Homo sapiens: one gene and its partners. The protein of the gene in region 1 purifies or fractionates together with the protein of each later gene. This does not show direct contact. Each region holds a gene or a part of one and is shown in the gene's direction. Other genes may lie near its edges. The genes, in order: BTK, ANKRD54, PLCG2 and MAP3K4.

Region 1 (7,034 bases):
CAACGCCTGAGGAGGACCAGGTATACAGGGAAACTGGGTGCTGCCACTGCTTAAATGGAAACTTATAGTCAAGCCCTAAGAACACACTAGAGTCTTAGAATTACCCTGGGACTTGGCAGTGTTAATTGGTATTCTTGCTAAGATGGGGGATTTGTTCTTCTAATTAGGATTTCCTCCTCGATGGAAAGATAGAAGGCTCTCAGCAACCATGTAATCCAATCACCTGTTTAGAACAAAACCTGATTTTTTTAATGTAAAGTTTTTGTTGTTGTTTTGTTTTTGCTTTTGTTTTTGTTTTGAGACGGAGTCTCGCTCTGTCGCCCAGGTTCGAGTGTAATGGCATGATCTCGGCTCACTGCAACCTCCGCCTCCCAGATTCAAGTGATTCTCCTGTCTCAGCCTCCTGAGTAGCTGGGATTACAGGCATGCACCACCACGCCCAGCTAATTTTTGTATTTTTAGTAGAGATGGGGGTGTCACCATGTTGTTCAGGCTGGTCTCGAACCCGCCTCGGCCTCCTAAAGTGCTGGGATTACAGGCGTGAGCCACCGTGCCCAGCTGGAAAGTATTTTCAAACATACAGTAAAGTTAGAAGAATTTAACACTTAATACCAACATACTCAACACTTAGCACTAACACCACCTATCACTAACACTTCAGAAGTTTTTTTTTTTTTTTTGGTTCCTTCTTGAGGGCTAGAAAGCCCTTTCTCACATATTGTAAGTAAGTAGAGCAGGTATTATTATACTCATTTTACAAAGAAGGAAACCAAGGTTCTGAGCCACTTAGTAGATTCACGTACAAGTTTAGTGCCAAGCCGGTTTCCTGACCTTAGCTATAAATGGTTTTTGTCTAGTGAGCTTTAAAAATAGTAATGTTTGGGTCCCATTCCTGAGAGTTTGATTTTGATGTAATTGGTCTGTGAGGAAACTGACTAGGTATTGGAATTGGTTTTTTGTTTTTTGTGGGTTTTTTTTTGAGACAGTCTCACTCTGTCACCCAGGCTGGAGTGCAGTGGCGTGGTCTTGGCTCACTACAACCTCCGCCTCCTGGGGTCAAGTTATTCTCCTGCCTCAGCCTCCTGAGTAGCTGGGGCTATATGCACACACTACCATGCCCAGCTGATTTTTGCATTTTTAGTAGAGATGGGGTTTCGTCACGTTGGCCAGGCTGGTCTCGAACTCCTGGCCTCAACTGATCCGCCCGCCTTGGCCTCCGAAAGTACATTGGAATTTAAAAGTTCCATACATGGTCTTTATATGTGTGCAAGGCTGAGAACTCCTGCACTGGTGCTTAAAAATGGTTGTTGAATGACTGCTGAGTAATATTTTAGTATGCCTGATTTGGGTGTCTTGAGTAAGCCAGAGAGTTGGGAGAGAAGAGAAGAGTGCTTGGTATCTTGACAAACCCTCCTACCTTTTCTCCTAACTACATAGATCTTGAAAAAGCCACTACCGCCTGAGCCAGCAGCAGCACCAGTCTCCACAAGTGAGCTGAAAAAGGTTGTGGCCCTTTATGATTACATGCCAATGAATGCAAATGATCTACAGCTGCGGAAGGGTGATGAATATTTTATCTTGGAGGAAAGCAACTTACCATGGTGGAGAGCACGAGATAAAAATGGGTGAGTCCACACCAGCCCTTCCTGAGCCTGGTGCCTGCCCACTCCCTACACGCAAAAAGTGCTGCGGCATAATTCCCGTGATCAGCATCCTCATCAGAGACTGTTCTTCCCACACCAGACTGAACATGCTCTCCCTCCAAGTACTTCCCAGCGTGCAGCTCCCTATACATGGCCTCTGCCACATCTCTGAGCCTCTGTTGTTGGGCACATATAACCAATGCAACATGTGCATAAGCTCTGCACCTCACTGGCTCACTGCCTAACCATGCATCAGAGACATGATTGTCTTTGAGGGAGGTGCATGATACATATACCTCCATTTGAGATTTGTTCTGAGCTCAGGGACGTGGGCATATGAATCTGTCTCCTGGAGGCTGGGGAGGTGCTGGATGAACTGCCACATTGTTTCCTTCACAGGCAGGAAGGCTACATTCCTAGTAACTATGTCACTGAAGCAGAAGACTCCATAGAAATGTATGAGTAAGTATGTTTATGTCAGTCCACAATCTTCCAGGAGGAACTCTCTCTCTCTATATATATATATATTTATTTATTTATATATATTTTATATATATTTATATATATATATAACACACACAAGTGTATATATGTATACATATGTATACATACACTGGTGTATATATAGGTATATTATGTATACATACACAAGTGTGTATATATATATATACACTTTTTTCTACTTTCAACATATTTTTTATTTCAAGATATATATTAAAATTAGTACCATCTGAATCAAATGATGCCACCACCTCAAATTAGTGTATCTGTCTTACCTTTACCCCCCAAACACCCTCCATTTATGAGAGCTGGAGAGGTCACCATGCCCTCAAATCCAGAAGAATCACACTCAAAGAAAAAGGAGTTGACGACCTGATGAAAGAATTAAAATGTCAAACTGCTACTGTTGTCCTTTCCTCCCTAATCATGGAAGTGGATTGTTCTCAAGTGCCCTAGTCCCTGATCTCTTCCCTGCAACTCCCTGCTGCTTGCCTTTGCCTGCTACTCTCCATTTCCATGAATCTTCAATGCCAACCTGGGTTTGGGAAAGGGATACAGTGTGCTATGCACATGACAGATGCTCAGTAAATAGGGTTTGAGTGAGTTGACTGAATCACTGACATGGACAAGCCCTGGAGGGTGCTGTAACCTCCAATCTGCTTATGACCAGGAGCCACTCAAGCAGCACTCTCCCTTCACAGGTGGTATTCCAAACACATGACTCGGAGTCAGGCTGAGCAACTGCTAAAGCAAGAGGTAAGTGTGGAACCACTAGCACACAGCATTCTCCTTGCATAAGTGAGGATCTTGAACTGAGGGCCTGTTCTGCCCCCTACCTTTGGGCAAGGCAGTGTCAAAGCTGCCATCGTCTGGGATCCCAATTACACCATTTTTTTTGTTTTTGTTTTTCTGAGACGGACTCTCGGTCTGTCACCCAGGCTGGAGTGCAGTGGCGTGATCTGGGCTCACTGCAACCTCCGCCTTCTGGGTTCAAGTAATTCTCCTACCTCAGCCTCCCAAGTAGCTGGGATTACAGGCACATGCCACCACGCCCGACTAATTTTTGTATTTTTAGCAGAGACGGGGTTTCACCATGTTGGCCAGGCTGGTCTCGAACTCCTGACCTCAGGTGATCCGCCCACCTCGGCCTCCCAAAATGCTGGGATTACAGGCATGAGCCACCATGCCCGGCCTGCACCTTTTAATATTAAAAGCAATGAGGCTGTAGCTCAAGCGTGGAACTTGGCAGTAAAATCAGGGGTTGTTCTATTTTCTCTCTCAAGTTTGGGCAGGTGGGATGCAGGTGTGAGCACCACTTCCTCCTACAGACAGCTTCTTTTTCGTTGTTTCAGGGGAAAGAAGGAGGTTTCATTGTCAGAGACTCCAGCAAAGCTGGCAAATATACAGTGTCTGTGTTTGCTAAATCCACAGGGTGAGTGCTACTATTCCAAGGCCCTGAGGACAAAGAACAGGGGTACCCTCCTAATAGCTCCTTGATGCTGTGCCCGTCCCACTTCCTCTGTCTCTGAAACTCAAAACTCATCTCACTTCACTTCCTGGGTTCTGTTGACCTTTGTGCCCAAGTTACTGACTAAGCATCCACTTCTTCAGGGACCCTCAAGGGGTGATACGTCATTATGTTGTGTGTTCCACACCTCAGAGCCAGTATTACCTGGCTGAGAAGCACCTTTTCAGCACCATCCCTGAGCTCATTAACTACCATCAGCACAACTCTGCAGGTGAGTACCAGGGGCAACTGAGAAGGGAGTTACAGACACCAGGATAAGCAATGCAGGACAAGGTGATAAGAGGAAGAATCTGCCTCACAGGACAGTGTGAATTCACTGTGAAAGGAAATCCCTGTGATACTGGGTAGAAGCTGGTAAAGAGGTGGTCAGAGGCAGACCTACACCCAACAGGGACTGACTCTTTATTTGGTGATTGATGTTCAGTGTTAAGAGAAGACACAAAAGAGGCTGGTGACTGATTCATCAGCAAGTATTCATTGAGTTCCTACTGTGTACTCAGCGATTTCCTCAGTTCTAGAGGAGAACACGGGAACATTCTGAGTCGAGGTCCTTGTCCTCAAAGAACATACAGGTTAGACAACATCAGAAGAAAGTTTATAAGCACTGTAAAATTTCTAAAAACTGAGACATTAGTGAGGGCATGGATATGGGGGAACAGCTTCATCAAGAAGGTAGGATGTGAGCTAAGCCTGGGCTGGGAGGTGGGAATATATTCAGTTAGGCAGTGTATTTCAATTAGTATTTTCTCTTTTTTGTCCCTGAAAAGTATTTTGTGAGAGGAGAAACCTCTGGAAATATGTGGGTTCATGGAGGTCTTCTGGGATTCAAAATGTACTAGAAAGATACACACCGGAAGTGTGAGGCTTTAAGTGAGGATGTGTGAGGCATCCCACCTCCTACACCACACCAACAGCATGACCTCTCTCTCTGTTTCAGGACTCATATCCAGGCTCAAATATCCAGTGTCTCAACAAAACAAGAATGCACCTTCCACTGCAGGCCTGGGATACGGTAACTCCTTATTTCTCTGGGGTAGGGTGGACTGGCCAGTTGCAAAAACTACCTTTGCTGGCCTTGCCTTAGGGAGTGTCCTTGAGGTACACTGTTCTGCAGCAGCTGCCTCAAGGACGCTCAAGACAGATCCAAGCAAAAGTTATTCACTGATTTTCTTCCTCTAGTGGCTACGACTGGGACTGCAAAAACATAGATTCATAAAGGGCTTTGTCGTTGTCTTGGGTCTTTTTGTCTTTTATTTTTAATTGTGGGAAAATTTTCAGTACTATCCCTGAGTTCATTAACTACCATCACTAACATAATCATAAAGGGATTTGGGGAGGTTGCTTAGTCTATCTTCTTGCCTTATGGCCACCTTGAACCTAAAATTCCCAGATTCCTCTAACCAATGAATCCCGTTTCTGAGATTGACTTAAGCAAAGACAGATTAGTACTTCTAAAAATTTCCCTTTTACTAGTTTTCCTATTTCTACCCCAGTAGGGATTTTTGTCTATTGTAAGAATTATACATTCATGACCCCAAAGAATCACACCAAGACTTTATTGTTAGGATCATGGGAAATTGATCCAAAGGACCTGACCTTCTTGAAGGAGCTGGGGACTGGACAATTTGGGGTAGTGAAGTATGGGAAATGGAGAGGCCAGTACGACGTGGCCATCAAGATGATCAAAGAAGGCTCCATGTCTGAAGATGAATTCATTGAAGAAGCCAAAGTCATGATGTGAGTTATAGCCCAAACTCAACTCTCAATCTATTTGCTGGAGTCTAGGAATTCACACAACAACCCACTGAGGCTTAAAGATGACTTACAGTAAGAGAGGTTTGGGACGAGGGACTGAAGTTTACCTTTAACTGGCGGTAGTCCTAAGTGCTAAGATAATAGTTTCTGTGCCTTAGATATTGGTTGAGAATAGTGGTGATCATGGGTGTGTACCATCTCAGTAGCATTTGGGGGTAGATGTAGAAAATTAAACTTTCAAGAGAAATATTCTAATTTAGCCTTAGCGTTCTTTCATTCCTGGACTTGTTTCTTTTTCAATTGATGGGCTCCAAATCCCTGCTTGCTTCCACATTTTAAGCACTTTTGAGATTTAGGGTGGGAAAGAGGAAAATAAACTTGCTGGTGTGACCCCTTATCTGATGCTCTACTCCTAGGTCAGCCCCTTCCTCCCCAGCCCCTTTATTGCTATTATGCAGAGCCAAAAGGAGAAGACTAGTTCCTTGCCTTTCCTGTAGGAATCTTTCCCATGAGAAGCTGGTGCAGTTGTATGGCGTCTGCACCAAGCAGCGCCCCATCTTCATCATCACTGAGTACATGGCCAATGGCTGCCTCCTGAACTACCTGAGGGAGATGCGCCACCGCTTCCAGACTCAGCAGCTGCTAGAGATGTGCAAGGATGTCTGTGAAGCCATGGAATACCTGGAGTCAAAGCAGTTCCTTCACCGAGACCTGGTGGGACCTTAGAAGGATTGGCCTAGGACAAAGGGCTGATGGGGTGGAAGTAGCAGTGGAAGATATATCATACATGGTTGAGGGGGGCTGCTGGTGCCATCATTTCAATTTTATCTAGAAAGTACTATAAGTTAGGCGTGCCTCTGCCCCAGTGCTGAGCCCATCAAATATCTCCAGCCTCAGCTCCATGAAGTCTGCCGTGGTGGGAATCAGAGCAGTCACTCACTCCCAACCCCCTACCACCCACAAGAAAATGGTGGGGTCTTTCAGTGGCCATTCTGGATTTGGAACAGAAGGGACTGTGCTTCCCAATGGGACTGCTCCTGGCATGGGGCCATCATTTGGTTCCTTCAGAGTCACATACTGGGGCCTGTGGATGCATTTGGCCCACATGTGTGGGTTTTTTTTATGTTATATAATAATTAGCAAACCCTTAAAAAGAAACATTTCGCTTAAAAAAAAAAAAACCCTGGAATTTCCAGCTTCTCTTGAAAATCTACACCGTCTGGAAATACCAGGTCCACATTCTCACGAACCGCCTCCTTTCCTCTAGGCATGTACTCTCCATTTCCTGCAATCTCGATCCACTTCACTTCACTCTTACTTAACTTGCCTGGCCCCTGTAAGCATCAGAGTTTGCGCCCCTGTTTCTTTCAGTCAGGCCAAGGCTCAAATTGTCCTAGTCTCACTGGCAGAAAAGCAGAAAGCAAAAAAACTTACTTCTCATTCTCCCTTCTTTGTTTTTTGTTTGTTTTGTTTTGTTTTGTTTTGTTTTGAGATGGAGTCTCGCTCTGTTGCCCAGGCTAGAGTGCAATGGCACCATCTCGGCTCACTGCAAACTCCGCCTCCCAGATTCAAGCAATTCTCCTGCCTCAGCCTCCCAAGTAGCTGGG
Region 2 (7,034 bases), on another chromosome or scaffold:
AGTATAGACAAGGTTTCACCATGTTGCCCAGGGTGGTTTCAAACTCCAGAGCACAGGCAATCTGCCCACCTCAGCTTTCCAACGTTCTGGGATTACAGGCGTGAGTCACCACGTATGGCTAGTTTTGTATTTTTAGTAGAGATGGGGTTTCAGCATGTTGGCCAGGCTGGTCTTGAACTCCTGGCCTCAAGTGATCCACCTGCCTTGGCCTCCCAAAGTACCGGGATTATAGGCATGAGCCACTGCGCCCAGCCATTGTGGCTTTTTTTTTTTTTTTTTTTCCTGAGACAGTCTCACTTTGTTGCCCAGGCTGGAATGCAGTGGCGTGATCTCATCTCACTGTAGCCTCCGCCTTCCGGCTTCAACCCATTCTCCTACCTCGGCCTCCTAAGTAGCTGGTGTTACACGTGCACACCACCACACCCAGCTAGATGGCTGGGTTTTTTTTGTTGGTTTTTGTTGTTTTTGTTTTTTTCTGAGACAGCGTCTCACTCTGTCACCCAGGCTGGAGTGCAGTGGCGCGATTTTGGCTTACTGCAACCTCCATGTCCTGGGTTCAAGTGATTCTCCTACCTCAGCCTCCAGAGTAGCTGGGATTACAGGCATGTGCACCACACCCGGCTAATTTTTTTGTATTTTTAGTAGAGATGGGGTTTCACCATGTTGTCCAGGCTGGTTTTGAACTCCTGGCCTCAAGTGATCCACCTGCCTCGGCCTCCCAAAGTGCTGGGATTACAGACGTGAGCCATCATGCCCAGCCAATGGCTGTGTTTTTTTTGTGTGTGTTTGTTTGTTTGTTTGTTTTGAGACGGAGTCTCACTCTGTCACCCAGGCTGGAGTGCAGTGGCGCGATCTCTGCTCACTGCAAGCTCCACCTCCCAGGTTCACGCCATTCACCCGCCTCAGCCTCCCGAGTAGCTGGGACTACAGGCACCTGCCACCACGCCCGGCTAATTTTTTTGTATTTTTAGTAGAGATGGGGTTTCACCATGTTAGCCAGGATGGTCTCGATCTCCTGACCTTGTGATCTGCCTGCCTTGGCCTCCCAGAGTGCTGGGATTATAGGCATGAGCCACCGCACCCAGCCATGGCTGTTTTTTTAAACTGGCATCCGTTACTCTCTTTACAGCTCTGAAGAGACTGAGGGACTCGGCCAATGCCAATGATGTGGAAACAGGTGAGTGTGCACAGTAGGTCCAGCTACAGGGTCCCATGGGCTGGTTGGGGAAGGAAAAGGCCAGGTAATCAATATGTGGGAAGGCAGTCTGCAAACTCACGCCCTTGGAGCAGGCTCACTGTATTTATTGTCTGACTGTGCAGTCATCTTGCTGAAGGTAAGTCTGGCTTAGACACTCACTCTCCCCATGCTCCCCTGTCACTTTGAACTTCCTGATGTCATAGCATTTACCACCCTGTGGACTCCTTGATGGTGGAGACCATGTATACTTTTGTATCCCTGGCAGCCAGCACAGTCTTCTGCAAAGAGTAGGCACTAACTTTGGAACTTGTGGTTAATGGGAGTGAATACTCAACTTAGCTGCCACGGCCAGGTGAGGTGGCTCATGCCTGTAATCCCAGCACTTTGGGAGGCTAAGGCAAGAGGATCACTTGGGCTCAGGAGTTTGAGACCAGCCTGGACAACATAGGGAGACCTCGTCTCTACAAAAAGTAAATGTTAGCTGGGCGCGGTGGCTCACGCCTGTAATCCCAGCACTTTGGGAGGCCGAGCTGGGCAGATCACGAGGTTAGGAGATCGAGACCATCCTGGCTAACACTGTGAAACCCCATCTCTACTGAAAATACAAAAAATTAGCCGGACGTGGTGGTGGGCGCCTGTAGTGCCAGCTACTTGGGAGGCTGCGGCAGGAGAATGGTGTGAACCTGGGAGACAGAGCTTGCAGTGAGCGGAGATGACGCCACTGCACTCTAGCCTGCGCGACAGAGCGAAATTCTGTCTCAAATAAATAAATAACATAAGAAAAAAATTTTTTAAAAATGTTGTGGAAATTAGAGAAATATATAAGAAAAAATCCATGTCCGCAAAGGAACTAATCTGTTAATATTTTGATGAATATCCTTCAAGGCTTCTTTCCTATACACTGGAATTTTCTTTATGGGCTGGCTTGCAAACTGCTATATACACATGCTGTAGCCTGCATAATTTTTTGTGTATCATAAACATTTTTTCGGGCCGGGTGTGGTGGCTCACGCCTGTAATCCCAGCACTTTGGGAGGCTGAAGTGGGCGGATCACCTAAGGTCAGGAGGTCGAGACCAGCCTGACCAATATGGTGAAACCCCGTCTCTACTAAAAATACAAAAATTAGCTGGGGGCTACTTGGGAGGCCCCAAGTAGCTGGGGGATTGCTGCCTGCTGGGAGCATAGCATAGGCCAATAGCTTGGGCAGCTGTTTCCAGCCAGAATGGATGTGTATCCAAGCCGAGGTCACGGGAGGGGGACCACTGTCTATGCTAGGGATTCCTGTGACCCTAAAATTTCTGACCCTGAGGGCCTTGAACCTCCTACGATGTTCTATCACTAGACGTGTAGTTTGAGCACTCAGAATCCATGGCCTTCAGTTGTGCCCTCAGAAGAACAAGTTGCTTGTTCCCATAGGACCAGCATCTAGGAAGGGCTGCTTTCCTATGCATTGTCGATGTCTTGTCTAGAGGCACCCCTGAGCCTCCCTCTCCATCGCTCGGGTCTGCAGCTTAGCTAACATCGCCGCTTTCTCCCCCTTCCTCCCTCTGTCTTGGTGGTGTCAGTGCAGCAGCTGCTGGAAGATGGCGCGGATCCCTGTGCAGCTGATGACAAGGGCCGCACAGCTCTACACTTTGCCTCATGCAATGGCAATGACCAGATTGGTGAGTCCTGGGGAGGGAGGAGGGAGTAGGGCTAGGCAAGTAGTGTCTCTGCACAGGCCTTGGGGGAGGCGCTGCTGTCTGCACAGCCTTGGGATGCCCAGTTGTTCTGGATATAAGGAAGACTTGGCACTGCAGTGCCCTGCCCTTCTCCCTCTGTTAGCCTGTGGAACTGGCAATGTTAGACTGGGGCAGGGTAAACCTGGGGGAGATAATATGATTGACTGAGGATGAAGGGATATCTCCAACTAAGAGACCACTGGAGAGTGCAGGGCCCAGGCCTTCAAGACTTTCAGGTAACATTTACTCAGTGCCAACCACAGCAGCAGGACAGCTTTTCTCTTTTTATAGGAGTCTTTTTTTTTTTTGAGATGGAGTCTCGCTCTGTCGCCCAGGCTGGAGTGCAGTGGTGCCATCTCGGTTCACTGTAAGCTCTGCCTCCCGGGTTCACGCCATTCTCCTGCCTCAGCCTCCCAAGTAGCTGGGACTACAGGCACCCGCCACCATGCCTGGCTAATTTTTTATATGTTTTTAGTAGAGACGGGGTTTCACTGTATTAGCCAGTATGGTCTCGATCTCCTGACCTCGTGATCCACCCGCCTCGGCTTCCCAAAGTGCTGGGATTACAGGCATGAGAGACTGCACCCGGCCACACCGGTTAATTTTTTTGTATTTTTTAGTAGAGATGGGGTTTCACCATGTTGGCCAGGCTGGTCTTGAACTCCTGACCTCGTGATCCACCTGCCTTGGCCTCCCAAAGTGCTGGGATTACAGGCGTGAGCCACTGCACCAGCCTTGCATACTTTTACTCAAAGTTATCTCCATGAGATTCACCCATGAATACTGCCTATATCAGTACAGTCTTCCCTCAGTGTTCTTGGGATTGGTTCCAGGACCCCACTCAGATACCAAACTCCATGGATGCTCAAGTCCTTTGAAGTTGGCCCTCCATATCCTCGGGTTCTGAGTCCAGGGTTCATTGAATCTGTGGACACAGTATTCACAGTTAGGGAGGGTGGACTGTAGTTAGTACTTTCTTATGCTGGTTTGTATTTCATTGTGATATACCCCATTTATCCATTCTACTATTGACGGACATTTGTGGTGTTTCCAGGTTTTAGCTTTATGAATGAAGTGTTGTGAACATTCTTGTATATGTGATTTGTGGCTGTAAACACTCATCTATCCTCTATAAACCTAGGAATGGCATTGTTGGGTCACTAGGGTACACATGTATTTAGCTTTAGTAGGTACTACTAAACCTTTTCCCAAAAGGGATGTACTGACACACACTCCCACTCCCCACCAGCAGTGTAAGAGTTCCACCTTTCCCTACGTCCCTGCCAGTGCTTGCTGTTGTCTCTCTTTAATCTTAACCCTTTTGGTGTCTCATAGTGGTTTAATTTGCATTTCTCTGATGGCCAGTAACGTTGAGCACCTCTTCATGTGTTTATTGGCCTTTTTTTTTTTTTTTTGAGACGGAGTCTTGCCTGTCGCCCAGGCTGGAGTGCAATGGCGTGATCTCGGCTCATTGCAACCTCCACCTCCTGGGTTTGAGTAATTCTCCTGCTTCAGCCTCCCGGGTAGCTGGGATTATAGGCACGCATCATCACACCCAGTTAATTTTTGTATTTTTAGTAGAGACAGGGTTTCACCATGTTGGCCAGGCTAGTCACAAACTCCTGACCTCAGGAGATCCACCTGTCTCGGCCTCCCAAAGTGCTGGGATTACAGGTGTGAGCCACCATGCCCGGGCCATTTTTTTTTTTAAACTTTAAGTTCTGGGATGCATGTGCAGAACGTGCAGGTTCGTTACATAGGTACACCTGTGCCGTGGTGGTTTTCTGTACCCATCAACCCGTCATCTAGGTTTTAAGCCCCTCATGCATTAGGTATTTGTCCTAATGCTCTCCCTCCCCTTGGCCCCCACCCCCCGACAGGCCCTGGTATGTGATGTTCCCCTCCCTGTGTCCAATTATTGACCATTTTTACATCCTCTTTTATGAACTATATGTTCAAATCTTTTGTCCTTTTTTTTTTTTTTTTTTTTTTTTTGAGACAGAGTTTCACTCTTTGTTGCCCAGGCTGGAGTGCAATGGCGTGATCTCGGCTAACCACAACCTCTGCCTCCCGGGTTAAAGTGATTCTCCTGCCTCATCCTCCCAAGTAGCTGGGATTACAGGCATGCGCCACTACGCCCGGCTAATTTTGTATTTTTAGTGGAGACCGGGTTTCTCCATGTTGGTCAGGCTGGTCTCGAACTCCTGACCTCAGGTGATCCACCCGCCTCGGCCTCCCATAGCGCTGGGATTACAGGCGTGAGCCACCGCACCTGGCCTCTTTTGTCCATTTTTTTAAAAACAAGTTTTGCCTGGGCGCGGTATCTCACGCCTGTAATCCCAGCACTTTGGGAGGCCGAGGCGGGTGGATCATGAGGTCAGGAGATCGAGACCATCCTGGCTAACACGGTGAAACCCCATCTCTACTAAATATACAAAAACTTAGCCGGGTGTGGTGGCGGGTGCCTGTAGTTCCAGCTACTCGCTGAGGCAGGAGAATGGTGTGAAGCCGGGAGGCGGAGCTTACAGTGAGCCGAGATCGCGTGACTGCACTCCAGACTGGGAGAGAAAGCAAGACTCTGTCTCAAAAACAAACAAACAAACAAAAAAAACTAGTTTTCTGTCTTTTTCTTTTTTTGAGACAAAGTCTCACTCTGTCATCCAGGCTTACGTGCAGTGGCCTGATCACTGCCCACTGCAGCCTCAATCTCCTAGGCTCAAGCAATCCTCCTGCCTCAGCCTCCCAAGTAGCTGGGACGACAGGTGCACACCACCAAGCCCAGCTAATTTTAAAACATCTTGTAGAGACGTGGTCCTGCTATGTTACCCAGCTGTTCTCTAACTCTTGGGCTCAGGCGATCCTGTCACCTTGGCCTCCCAAAGTATTGGGATTACAAGCATGAGCCACTGCGCCTGGCCTTTTTCTTATTGATTTGTAAGAATTCTTTGTATATTCTGGTTAGAAATCATTTATCAAATATAAATGACTTGATTTTCTGAGCTTGCTGTTTCATTTTCTGAGTGGTATACTTTGATGAACACAAGTTCCTAATTTTATTTTTATTTATTTATTTATTTATTTGAGACAGAGTCTCACTCTGTTGCCTAGGCTGGAGTGCAGTGGTGTGATCTTGGCTCACTGCAAGCTCTGCTCCCCAGGTTCAAGCTATTCTCCCACCTCAGCCTCCTGAGTAGCTGGGATTACAGATGCGTGTCACCACACCCACCTAATTTTTTATTTTTAGTAGAGATGGGATTTCACCATGTTGGTCAGGCTGGTCTCGAACTCCTGACCTCCGATGATCCACCCGCCTTGGCCTCCCAAAGTGCTGGGATTACAGGCGTGAGCTCCTGTGCCCTGGCCTATTTTATTTTTTATTTTTTGGAGACAGAGTCTCGCTCTGTCACCCAGGCTGGAGTTCAGTGGCATGATCTTGGCTCCCTGGAACCTCCACCTCCTAGGTTCCAGCAATTCTCCTGCCTCAGCCTCCCAAGTAGCTGAGACTACAGGGGTATGCCACCACACCCAGCTAATTTTTGTGTTTTTAGTACAGACAGTTTCAACATGTTGAACAGCCTGGTCTTGAACTCCTGACCTCAGATGATCTGGCTGCCTTGGCCTCCCAAAGTGCTGGGATTACAGGCATGAGCCACCGTGCCCAGCCATGTTCTTAATTTTAATGAATCCAATTTATCAATATTTCTTTCCTTTCTCTTTTTTTTTTTTTTTTTTTTTTTTTTTTTTTGAGACAGGGTCTGTCTCTGTTGCCTAGGCTGGAGTGCACTGGCACCATCTCGGCTGACTGCAACCTCGACCTTCTGGGCTCAAGCCGCCCTGCCACCTCAGCCTCTCAAGTAGCTGGGACTACAAGTCTGCCATCACTATGCCCAGCTAATTTTTGTGTTTTTAGTATAGAGAAAGGGTTTCTCCATGTTGCCCAGGCTGGTCTTGAACTCCTGAGCTCAAATGATCCACCTGCCTCGGCATCCCAAAGTGCTGGGATTAACAGGCCTGAGCTCCCATGCCTGGCCTTTTCTTTCCTATGGTTAGTATTTTTGTGACCTATTTAAGAAATCTTTGCCTGCCCAAGATGTTCATGTTCTTCTGGAAGCC
Region 3 (7,034 bases), on another chromosome or scaffold:
GCCTGACCCGCGTCTACCCAAAGGGACAAAGAGTTGACTCTTCAAACTACGACCCCTTCCGCCTCTGGCTGTGCGGTTCTCAGATGGTGGCACTCAATTTCCAGACGGCAGGTAAAGGCCGACTGAAGGTAGTCCCGTCCCTGCAAGGTGGCGGTTGCAGTCACTCCAGGCCGAGTCACCTTGGGTCAGCGATACCATGTGGTGTCCAAGAATGAGTGATTTGTCCGAGGGACTGCACGGTTCAGCAGAGTAATGGTTAGTATGAGGTCCAGCAGCTGAATGGAGGGATGAGAGGACCGAAGGCTGCTTGGCTTACGCAGGCTTCGTGATTGTAAGTAAGTGACAGAGGCTGAGTTAGTCTGGCTTAGAAAAAGAAAATGCATTAGTTCATGTAATTAAAGCATCTTTGGAGTTCTCTTCTCCAGGCCTGTTGCTGTGTGAGGGCTTTCTGCTCAGACTTTCTTCCAGAGACATTTACATGCTGGCATAACTAACATACACAAACTTCTGGACACAAAGTGATCGCATAAATCACGGGGCTTTGTGCTTTTGTTGTTGTTATTTAAGACCTCTTTCGAGGGATCTATTCATCAGTAGCCTCCTTTACATTCTTTTTATAGCCACATCGGATTCCACAGAATGGAACAATCATTTATTTAATAAGTCCCCGTGGAGGCACATGTAGGTATTCCCCATTATTTGCTGTCATAGACAGCACTGCCTTCTGTACCCTGACGTGAGCGCCATTCCACAGATGTAGGAATATGTCTATGGGACAGAATTCTCAGAAAGGCAGGGTGGGTCAAACAGCGCTTGCATTTTGATCAACTTTGCCCTGAGGAAAACCACTGAAGACGTGCCTGAGCTAAGCCACACTGCCAAACTGCCCTCCATAGAGATCGTGGGCGGGGATGCAAATAGGTGGAGGTTGGAGTACGCTCTTTTGGTATGACTTCGCTGAGTTTTGTTGAACTTTTTGCCGTTTGCACAACTGAGAGGTGAAAACTGATACATCGTCGTCCATTAGAGCTTCTTCTTGTAAGGGACATTAACCAGTTTTTCCCTCATTTAGGGAGCAGTGGCATTTTCTTTTCTGGGAACTATTTGTGCTTCTTACCTGATGTATCTACTGCAGTAGGTATTTATAGCATAGATGTATCAGAACTAAGAGGTTAAAAATTTATATTCACATATTTGTCATTTGAATTAAAATTGCCTATGCAATTTATTGCTACATAGACACTTTTAGCAAGTTTGAATCTTTTCTTTTATGATTCGGGATTTGGTGACATACTTGGAAAGGTGTTCCCCAGTCTGGGAGTTTGCTGTCTAGAAACCCTATATTTTCTTTGAGTGAGATACCTATTTGAACAGCTGCCTCACATTAATTTGGGGAAAAGGTGAAATTCATTCCCCACCTAGAAACTCCTGGCCTAGGGGGCCAGCGTGCTCATGCCTGACTTACAGCAGGCGTTCACTTTCCTTCCCAGATAAGTACATGCAGATGAATCACGCATTGTTTTCTCTCAATGGGCGCACGGGCTACGTTCTGCAGCCTGAGAGCATGAGGACAGAGAAATATGACCCGATGCCACCCGAGTCCCAGAGGAAGATCCTGATGACGCTGACAGTCAAGGTAAAGCCAGCCCTCCCTTCCTGCCAGGGGAGCCAGCCGCCCTCCCTGGGGGCTGGGCCGATGCTGTCTTGAGAGCAGGGAACCCATGTCTAGGGAGGCTGGTTGTCTTGTTTAAACGATCCCCATTCAGGCAGTGTTTGAGGATCTTTCTTTCTTACAGTACACTCCGGGGTCGTTCTGGGAGAAGAGGGAAGAGAGGGGAAACCTCCTCAAACCCACTTCCCCTTGTCCTCTGTGGGGGTGAGGTATGACCCTATCTTTCTGGGGTCCTGGTGAGGTCAGCCTCTGGCCGGAAAGAGAAAGAAAACATGGGAAACAGCCATTTGGTCTTAATGGAGAAGTTTTTTCCCTTACTTTGTCCAATTCCAGGGCTTTTTAAAATTCATCTGACTTTCAGAGAAAGTGTTGTTGCTTTGTAAGAATTTTTGAAAAGTAGAGAAATGAATTGCATTTCTCCTAAGGTTAAGGGCGGGCGGGTGGTAGGGGGAAGAAGCATACGTAAACACAGGCCTTTAAATAAACAGCAGTTATAAAAAGAATGCCACACTGTTCCTCAGCCTTTCCTAGGGGTGTGGAAATCCAGTGATTAAGCTCTGCCTTGATCAGAGGCACCTGCTTGGGCATGGATGTGTGCATTCATGAGCTCAGGTGAGTTTTACCTGTTGAGTCAGGTGGCATATGGGGCCGAGACCCAGGCTGATGCTGAGGAACTGTGGGATCTACCACAGTCCACCTTCATCCACTGCAGAAGGTTGCTCCGGCTTTTCCAGTGAATCTAGGAAAATTAGGGCTGGCATTGAACTCATCCAGTGTCACTCTAGAACCCAGCTGCAATCCACGCTAGGCTGCCTGTTCAGGACCCCAGGGGGGTTCCAATGCTTCCCTTTGGTGTCCCAGGTTCTCGGTGCTCGCCATCTCCCCAAACTTGGACGAAGTATTGCCTGTCCCTTTGTAGAAGTGGAGATCTGTGGAGCCGAGTATGACAACAACAAGTTCAAGACGACGGTTGTGAGTAAGTCAGTCACCTTGGCCCCTCTGCTTTTAAACGTCCGGCCAGTGAATCCTTTGTGGGAGTGCTCTTCGTGGGGGATTTTGCAATGCTCTTTAGTTGTCCCAGGGTTTTCTTTCCTCCCTCTTGCCCACATGGTTCAGCTTGAGGAGGGGATACATACAAAGGGCCACTTTCTGAAATCCTTAGACTTTCCCCAGTGCTGTTTGCCTGCCTGTAACTCAAGTCCGGAATCGTAGGTGAGGCCCTGACACTAGGTTGGTCCTCTCTGTGCAACAGCCCAATCTGATTAATCTCCTGAGTCAAAGGCCAAGAGGCAGAGACACAGAGAGAGGGGGTGAACCTACGTGGCTGACCTGACCCAGAGGATCAGCCTAACCTGGGAGATCTTAGCCCCTAGAGGGCAGGAGGGACAAGAGGAATGCTTGCTCTTCCAGGAAAAGCCAGGAGGGAACCGTGATTGGTGGGCCTTCTAAAGCACAGGATCCTTGCCCCTGGTAAAAAGTAGCCCAATGAACAACTCAGATGCTGACCAAATAAACTGGCATTTATGGAGAGTGGCAGGATTGCTGCTTGCCTGCTCTGTGAGGCTGGGCTCTCCCCTGCCAGCTGTAGAACCCCCTGCTGGTGGATGTGGCTCCCAGGCTCTCCTCCCCTTTTGTCTTTTCCAAAATCCACCTTCCTGCTCTGCAAACAAACACCTCCCCCGTTCCCTTGTCCCTGATCCTGGGGCGGGGAGATGGGAGGTGGTCTCCTTCCTCTGCTCACCAAGGGACCAGCCTGCAACAGCAGCTTCCAGGATTGCTCAAGGTGGGGTGGGGGAGTGAAGATAATTATTCAGATTTTCTTAGATCTTGGCATAGATGCATATTTATTTACATGGTTGCTAAGGGGATTCACAGCTGAAGGATGCGGAGATTGTCTTACCAGAAGGGGGCAGCTCCAATGTGGCCTCTCATGAGCTTTGATCTCCTTCCAGATGATAATGGCCTCAGCCCTATCTGGGCTCCAACACAGGAGAAGGTGACATTTGAAATTTATGACCCAAACCTGGCATTTCTGCGCTTTGTGGTTTATGAAGAAGATATGTTCAGCGATCCCAACTTTCTTGCTCATGCCACTTACCCCATTAAAGCAGTCAAATCAGGTAAGAGGCATTTTAATTAAGATGTTCGATTTGGGCTGGCGTTGTACTTTGGTTTGGCTGCTGGCTTCAAAAAGAATGAAAAATGATTTTTCCTGGTTTGGATGGAATCACTGTAAAACCGATTGGGTGGCTTGGAGAGCAGGTGTACAGCCTGTCGTGTAGCACACAGGTGGGAGGAAGTGGGTGACAGGGGAGGCTATGCCCCTCAAAGTGGGATGTTTACAAGCAAAACTGGATTGTTAGTGGATCCTCAACCTGGCACTGCAGTTTGATTTCATTTTGAAATATTACATGCGGTTTGCTTCTCCCTAGCTAGGGCTAAGTCTGGTTTGATCTCCCCCTCCTGCTCTCTGGCTGGCAGTGTGAGAGGGTGGCAAGGGAGAGACCTTTGGCATCTTGGGGGGGGAGTAACAATCTCGAGGGTCCAACTCCCCAAACCCTTCAGAATTCACCTTCTTCTTCTATAAAATTGGGTGGGTTAATTTACTTCTTTGAGTTGTTACAGTTTTCTTCCCTGCTGAAGAAAACACAAGATCCCTTCATGGTATAAGAAGGGTCATTTTGTATTTTTCTGCAACCAAGCCAAGCTGGGTCATACGACCAGCTCTTAAGAACCCTGCTGAATCCCAGATGACTGAGCCCTTCCTACACAGCTGAGATAGACACTTCCAGGTGAGGGGATTTGGGACCCTGCTGCTTCTAGAGCCAGTCATTTACAAAAACAAAAAAAACTGGCTCTCCTTAGCTTCTATATAGTTTCTCTAGTTTACTTTCCCACTGGATCTTTCCCACTGGATTTTAGGTATAATATTTGACAAATAGGCCCTTGCTGGATGTTGAATTTTCCTTCTTCCTCTTCCTTTAGTATTTCTGATGCATGGTGCATGAGATATGAGATCATAGATTCTTCTGGATTCCTCAAGAGGTCACTGTTCCCTTGTTTTCTGAGGATCATTTTTCAAGAGAAAGATGACTGTCATTTTAGTTACTTACATAAAAAAATACAGTCTTTTGATATTGTTTGGAAACGTGGGGCTCAATGAAGAGCTGAATTGGATCTTTTTTGTTTTCAGACATTCCCTCAACTTCCACCTTTTTTTGTATAATATCATAAACCTGACCATTTCTGCTACTGGGCAGGAGCCCAGTTTCTGAGCAGCAGGCATGCTAGAAAATCCAGGTGCTGGCCGGGCACGGTGGCTCACTCCTGTAATCATAATCCCAGCTACTTGGAAGGCTGAGGTTGCACCACTGCACTCCAGCCTGGGTGACAGAGCAAGACTCAGAAGAAAGTGCAGGTTCCTGGACCCACCACAGGGTGATGAGTCAGCCCAGGGTGGGGCCAAGGAATCTGCATCTTTAGGCAGCTCCCCAGATGGTGCTTGGATGGCACTTTGACAGAACCAAACTATGTCAAGGCTGCCTATCTTACCATTGAGGAAATGAATTCCTTAGCAAGTTACTAGATGAAACAAGACTTTGGGAAAATGTTTAAAGTTTCTGATTTTTTTTTTTTTTTGTACTCTAGAAATGTTCATTTTCATGAACATTGCTACTCTAGCAATAATAATGAGTATTCATTTGTAAGAGGCCTGATATTTGGCAACCCTTCTGGGTTAACTCACCCACACTGTAAACTCCCCCTTTTTTTTTTTTGAGATGGAGTCTTGCTCTGTCGCTCAGGCTGGAGTGCAGTGGGTGATCTCGGCTCACTGTAACCTCTGCCTCAGCCTCCTCAGTAGCTGGGACTACAGGTGTACACTACCACATCTGGCTAATTTTTGTATTTTTAGTAGAGACGGGGTTTTGCCATGTTGGTCTGAAAAAAAGTGATGGGATTAAAGGAGTGAACCACTGTGCCTGGCCTATAAACTACTTTAAACCCGGCACTGATCAGGGCTGTGATTCCTTAATTTGCTTCTTTTAGATTAGTCTAATAAGGCTTAGGAATGACACCAATTCTTCTGGTGCAGGAAGTGTAGCTTTTGGTACACCTTTACGTTCCTAGCCTTGACGCTGTAACAGATTTCTTTTTATGGTAACTGCCTGCCAGTTCCTCTACTGAACTCATCCAGCAGAGAGGGGCAGCTGTGCTGAAACCCCTTGGTTACCCCGACGTCCTCTTGAAGGATGAGGGCCTTGAGCCTCATAACCCCTCCCAGTGCCTTGCAGAGATGTCAGAGTTGATGATAAAACCTCGTTACCTTAATGGGCATCAAAGTGTGTCAATTCATCTGCAGAATGCAATGACTTAGCTTGGAGATTTGGAAAAAACAAAGGTCAAAACCTCAAGGGAGATTAAAAATGTGACCTTCTCCTCCCCCGACTGTGAGATACTCTCAGCAGGGACCTTTCCTCACTTCTTTCTAGCTCCTAGCAGTGCCTGGCACATCCATATTCATGGGAGGAATGAAATAGAATGAACAGGAGGCATTGAGGGTCTTCCATACTGAAAAAATAAACTTCACCCATTGTCATTAGAGATGCACTGAAGCTTTTAAACCAGTTGGAGCGCAGGAAGGAAAGCAGCAGCCTTTATTGTGTTAGGTACCTTAAACTCTTTCTCTTTTAATCCTCACAGTAATCCTGTGAAAGGGGTTTTATCTTTGGTTTTAAAATTCTGAGCACTTTGAGGCCGAGAGACTATGACTTAACTTGCTCAAGGTCACACACCTGTAGGACCAGAGCTGAGATTCAAACCCAGGAATGTCTAATTAATTTCGAACCCCGTGTTCCTCCTCTGCAGGCTGCCCTCTCACTGGGTGCTCAAAGCCAGATGCATTGATCTTACTTTAAAAGGTGTCTGTATTTCCCTTTCCCCAGTGAAATGACTAGAAACAAGAAGAAGAAAAACAATTATTTTTTTTTTTTTTATACAAGGAGGGCTGCCCAGTGCATAAAAATGGGACTTGGGCAGCGAGAGAAGGTACATAGAGCTGGAGACAGCTGGTCATGAGGGCAGAGCTCATGTCTCCGATTTAAGAGGCACACGCCTAGTGTCAGATAGTACTGTCCAGCCTGGAACCATGCTATTGGAGTGTAGGGGCTACCTGATAGCCTCCCGGAATGCCATGGAGCAAACAGTCATTCCAGTTCATTCTAACAGTCAATCAGCAGCTAGACTGTATTAGTCCGTTCTCACACTGCTATAAAGACATACCTGAGACTGGGTAATTTATAAAGAAAAGAGGTTTGATTGGCTCACAGTTCTGCAGGCTGTACAGGCTTTTGTTTCTGGGGAG
Region 4 (4,146 bases), on another chromosome or scaffold:
TTAAATTGAAATCATTTTTTTTTTTACTTAGCATATGAGTGACTTTTTTTTTTTTTTTTTTTTTTTTTGAGATGGAGTCTCGCTCTGTCGCCAGGCAGGAGTGCAAGTGGCATGATCTCGGCTCACTGCAACCTCCGCCTCCCGGGTTCAAGCAATTCTTCTGCCTCAGCCTCCCAAGTAGCTGGGATTACAGGCACCTGCCACCATGCCTGGCTAAGTTTTGTACTTTGGTAGAGACAGGGTTTCACTGTGTTGGCCAGGCTGGTCTCGAACTCCTGACCTCATGATCCGCCTGCCTCAGCCTCCCGAAGTGCTGAGTGACATTTTTAAAGATTGAGAATACTATCTTTTAGAGAGTATATAAAGAAACACACATGTTTTGGACAGAAATTCCATGTGGTAGGGCTGCTCCGGAGACATTTCCAATCTCTATCAAAATTTTAAATGTGCATAGCACTTAAACCAAGAAGTTTTCTGCTTCTGAAAATGTATCTTATGATGATAATATTAATGAGCAGTTATACAAATGTAAAAAGACACGCATGAACTGCACATGGTAGCTTACCGTACACATACAGTATTATAGCAAAAAAGTTAGAAACCTTCATTTCTAAGTTAAAAGTTAGTGTTAAGTTACTAGTAGGAAATCAGTTAATTATAATGTAGCTATGCCTTGCAGCTGCTGAAACAGATCACATATAAGTGCTCAGTAAATATTAGCTAGCATTATTTCTATTAGCATTAAAATAGAAAGGCAGTTGTGATATCTGTGTTATTCCAGTAAAGCCACACATAAAAGAACAGGTTCTCATATTGAAGAATACATATTGGCAATGACGAAACAATAGTTTAGAAATTAGAATGCCATACACACTTAGTTCCTTCCCCTGTGAATCTCATTTTTCATAGGATCATAATGAAATAAGCTTTGCACTAATGCAATTTTTATTTTTCAATAAGGTAGCATATTAACCATCCCTATAAGAGAATTGGGTTTTATAGACTTTTTTATGTCATTTTATATATTTTTTAGTTGCATGATGATGGCTTCTAGATACTGTTGGACTAAATAGTGCACCCCAAATGGAGTAGGCAAACTATGCTGGCCACCTGTTTTATAAATAAAGTTTTGTTGGAACAGTCATATTCATTTATGTGTTGTCCATAGCTGCTACCATGCTGCCATGAGATTAGTGAATAGTTGTGATAGAGATCATATGGCCTGTCAACCTAAAATATTGTTTGGCCCTTTCAGTAAAAATTTGCTGTCCCCTGATATATATTAATGATGAGATGCTTAAAAACAGACTGAACATTTGCGTTGTTTGTGGCTGTGTAATATTAAAATCTGATTTTTTAAAAACATCTTTTTTAGAGGCCTTGGCATGAGTATGAGCACAACTTTCAAATTATGTATAAAGTGGGGATGGGACATAAGCCACCAATCCCTGAAAGATTAAGCCCTGAAGGAAAGGACTTCCTTTCTCACTGCCTTGAGAGTGACCCAAAGATGAGATGGACCGCCAGCCAGCTCCTCGACCATTCGTTTGTCAAGGTTTGGCAGATTACTGGATAGTCTTTTTCATGTTTAAGTGTTTAAGTTCTGTTTTGCATCAAGACGTTAATGAAATTTTGAAACTTTAAAGTAGCTATATCTGAAGTGGAAAGGAACTAAATGTATTATTATGCCAGGGATTTTTGTATGTGTTTTTTCATTTGGAAAATGTTCATTGAGGTTCTTCCACTTGATCTGTTTTGATGGTGCATTTAAGATACACCAGAGACAGTAAAATGGACTTTTAGATGGGACTGGATGAAAGAGTTTCCACTCTTGAGAGTGTATAGTCTACTTGGAGGGTCAAGACGGTAATGACTAATCATTATACTGAGAGCTGTGATAATGGTATATAAGGTTACTCAGAAGAGGAATTTAATTAAGTCAGCCAATCTCAGTTCTTTTTTCTCTAGAATGAGGTACCTTAGTTGTTTAAGAGCCACAGCCAGGTCAGAAGTGGGGGAGGGGGCATGGAAGACAAAGTAAAGAAACTTGGAAACGCTCACCCTTCCGGGAGAGTGGGATGGTCACAGAGCCCTGTGTAGGTAGATCCTGGTGAACACAGGATGTGGACAAGGGCAGGAAGATAAGGCTAGAACAGTAACCAGGAGCAACATGAAGGAGTTTCCATTTTATTATAAACATAAATGATGACATAGAGTTTTAGAAAGATCACTCTAGAGGCAAAGGAATTGAGAAGGTTCTGATACAGCCAAGGGGTTGGGAGAGGGCGTTCCGGGTGAGTGAACAGCGGCATTTAAGAGTTAGAGTGCCGTGGCTGACCCCTGATTGGATGTGAAAGGTGAGTGAGGGGAGGAGTCTAGAGTGGCTCCCAGGTTTCTGGTTTGTGTCATCAGGTCACAGACTCTATTTGCCAGGGTAGGGAAAGAAGCAGCTGGGTGAGGGGTGGGTCGGGAGGTGGTGGGTCCTCTTTGGTGGATGAAGCTTGGGGTACATTTGGAGCATCTGCTTGGAGATTTCACATGGGCATTTGGATACCTGGGGCTGGCACTCAAGAGGGATTTTGGGTAGGGCACAGGTGTGGGAGACAGAAGTATTGCTGGGAGGGTCCACAGAGGACAAGGGGATGAGAACAGAGCCCTGGAGAAAAGAGCCTTGCAAGGGCCCTGCAGGAGAGAGTCCCTGGGAAAGGAAAGGAAGGGGCAGAAGAGTGGGGTGATGCTCTTATTGGTAAGTGGGAGTAAGGGGCAAGCAGCAGGATCAGCTATGGAGACATTAGGGATTTGTAATTAAATAACAATTTATGTCTTAGTTATGAAGTGCATAACAATTTATATTGACCTGAGAGTGCATATAGGCGTTTTAGAAAATGCTTTCATTAGTCAGTTCCCAGGCTTAACTTTAGAGCAGTAACTTACCTCTGCCATTGTTCATTACATTTCTTAAGCCTTGCCCTCTGTGCCCAGTACAGTGCTGGGAGCATCAGGATGAGTGGATGGGGCCTTCCCCGTAAGACTCATACTGCGCGTATGCACAAGCACACACCTGGCTCTGCAAGAGCTCAGCTCTCTCCTGCTTCCTCACAGGTTTGCACAGATGAAGAATGAAGCCTAGTAGAATATGGACTTGGAAAATTCTCTTAATCACTACTGTATGTAATATTTACATAAAGACTGTGCTGAGAAGCAGTATAAGCCTTTTTAACCTTCCAAGACTGAAGACTGCACAGGTGACAAGCGTCACTTCTCCTGCTGCTCCTGTTTGTCTGATGTGGCAAAAGGCCCTCTGGAGGGCTGGTGGCCACGAGGTTAAAGAAGCTGCATGTTAAGTGCCATTACTACTGTACACGGACCATCGCCTCTGTCTCCTCCGTGTCTCGCGCGACTGAGAACCGTGACATCAGCGTAGTGTTTTGACCTTTCTAGGTTCAAAAGAAGTTGTAGTGTTATCAGGCGTCCCATACCTTGTTTTTAATCTCCTGTTTGTTGAGTGCACTGACTGTGAAACCTTTACCTTTTTTGTTGTTGTTGGCAAGCTGCAGGTTTGTAATGCAAAAGGCTGATTACTGAAATTTAAGAAAAAGGTTCTTTTTTCAATAAATGGTTTATTTTAGGAAAGCTCAGTTATATTGTCTTTTAATGGTTAACACTTATGAGCCAACGCAGTATGATACAGAAGTCTGTCATTTTCACTCATCTGTTCCTCAAAAGGAGGAGCACAATCACGTGTGCTAAAGATGGTCACTGGGTTCGGCGTCTCTTTAGGATCGCCTCGCTGAAAAGCAAAGGAAATAAATGAAGCAACACTAATGACGTAAGGTGGTTCCTTTTAAGTAGTTTCTATTAACCAGCAAGTTTATAACAGATACAAGTTTAAGCCTTGTTATCACATGTTGGGAGTTCACTTTATTTTTAAACCAAGATGTTTAGGTGCTAGGTCAGTGTAATTACTGCTGAATGATCTGATGAGAAAGCATCTTTTTCAGAAGTAAACATTTCAGCATTTAGCTTTCCAAAACAGCCCAAATTATACATCATTGGTGTTTTTTTTGTTTTTGTTTTTGCTATTAAATTTTTTAAAAAGATTGACCATAGAGCTTCCTGAAATCTTTTTGGAAGATCACTGACTCT

The links.
Region 2: the proteins of BTK (region 1) and ANKRD54 purify together in Homo sapiens (affinity purification with mass spectrometry; 5 studies listed by BioGRID and IntAct, with this or other methods). This does not show direct contact.
Region 3: the proteins of BTK (region 1) and PLCG2 purify together in Homo sapiens (affinity purification with western blotting; 2 studies listed by BioGRID). This does not show direct contact.
Region 4: the proteins of BTK (region 1) and MAP3K4 purify together in Homo sapiens (co-immunoprecipitation; 3 studies listed by BioGRID and IntAct, with this or other methods). This does not show direct contact.

Annotation. Positions count from the first base shown.
Region 1 is NC_000023.11:101,355,159-101,362,192, reverse strand, and holds part of BTK (tyrosine-protein kinase BTK), read left to right. Parts: coding exon 1-20; intron 21-1,437; coding exon 1,438-1,625; intron 1,626-2,042; coding exon 2,043-2,105; intron 2,106-2,845; coding exon 2,846-2,900; intron 2,901-3,496; coding exon 3,497-3,576; intron 3,577-3,755; coding exon 3,756-3,883; intron 3,884-4,609; coding exon 4,610-4,684; intron 4,685-5,237; coding exon 5,238-5,409; intron 5,410-5,924; coding exon 5,925-6,141; intron 6,142-7,034. UniProt on the Homo sapiens protein: Non-receptor tyrosine kinase indispensable for B lymphocyte development, differentiation and signaling. Binding of antigen to the B-cell antigen receptor (BCR) triggers signaling that ultimately leads to B-cell activation.
Region 2 is NC_000022.11:37,834,330-37,841,363, reverse strand, and holds part of ANKRD54 (ankyrin repeat domain-containing protein 54), read left to right. Parts: intron 1-1,129; coding exon 1,130-1,177; intron 1,178-2,765; coding exon 2,766-2,864; intron 2,865-7,034. UniProt on the Homo sapiens protein: Plays an important role in regulating intracellular signaling events associated with erythroid terminal differentiation.
Region 3 is NC_000016.10:81,936,268-81,943,301, forward strand, and holds part of PLCG2 (1-phosphatidylinositol 4,5-bisphosphate phosphodiesterase gamma-2), read left to right. Parts: coding exon 1-111; intron 112-1,490; coding exon 1,491-1,636; intron 1,637-2,533; coding exon 2,534-2,648; intron 2,649-3,624; coding exon 3,625-3,792; intron 3,793-7,034. UniProt on the Homo sapiens protein: The production of the second messenger molecules diacylglycerol (DAG) and inositol 1,4,5-trisphosphate (IP3) is mediated by activated phosphatidylinositol-specific phospholipase C enzymes. It is a crucial enzyme in transmembrane signaling.
Region 4 is NC_000006.12:161,113,748-161,117,893, forward strand, and holds the end of MAP3K4 (mitogen-activated protein kinase kinase kinase 4), read left to right. Parts: intron 1-1,375; coding exon 1,376-1,555; intron 1,556-3,102; coding exon 3,103-3,123; 3' UTR 3,124-3,633; downstream 3,634-4,146. UniProt on the Homo sapiens protein: Component of a protein kinase signal transduction cascade. Activates the CSBP2, P38 and JNK MAPK pathways, but not the ERK pathway. Specifically phosphorylates and activates MAP2K4 and MAP2K6.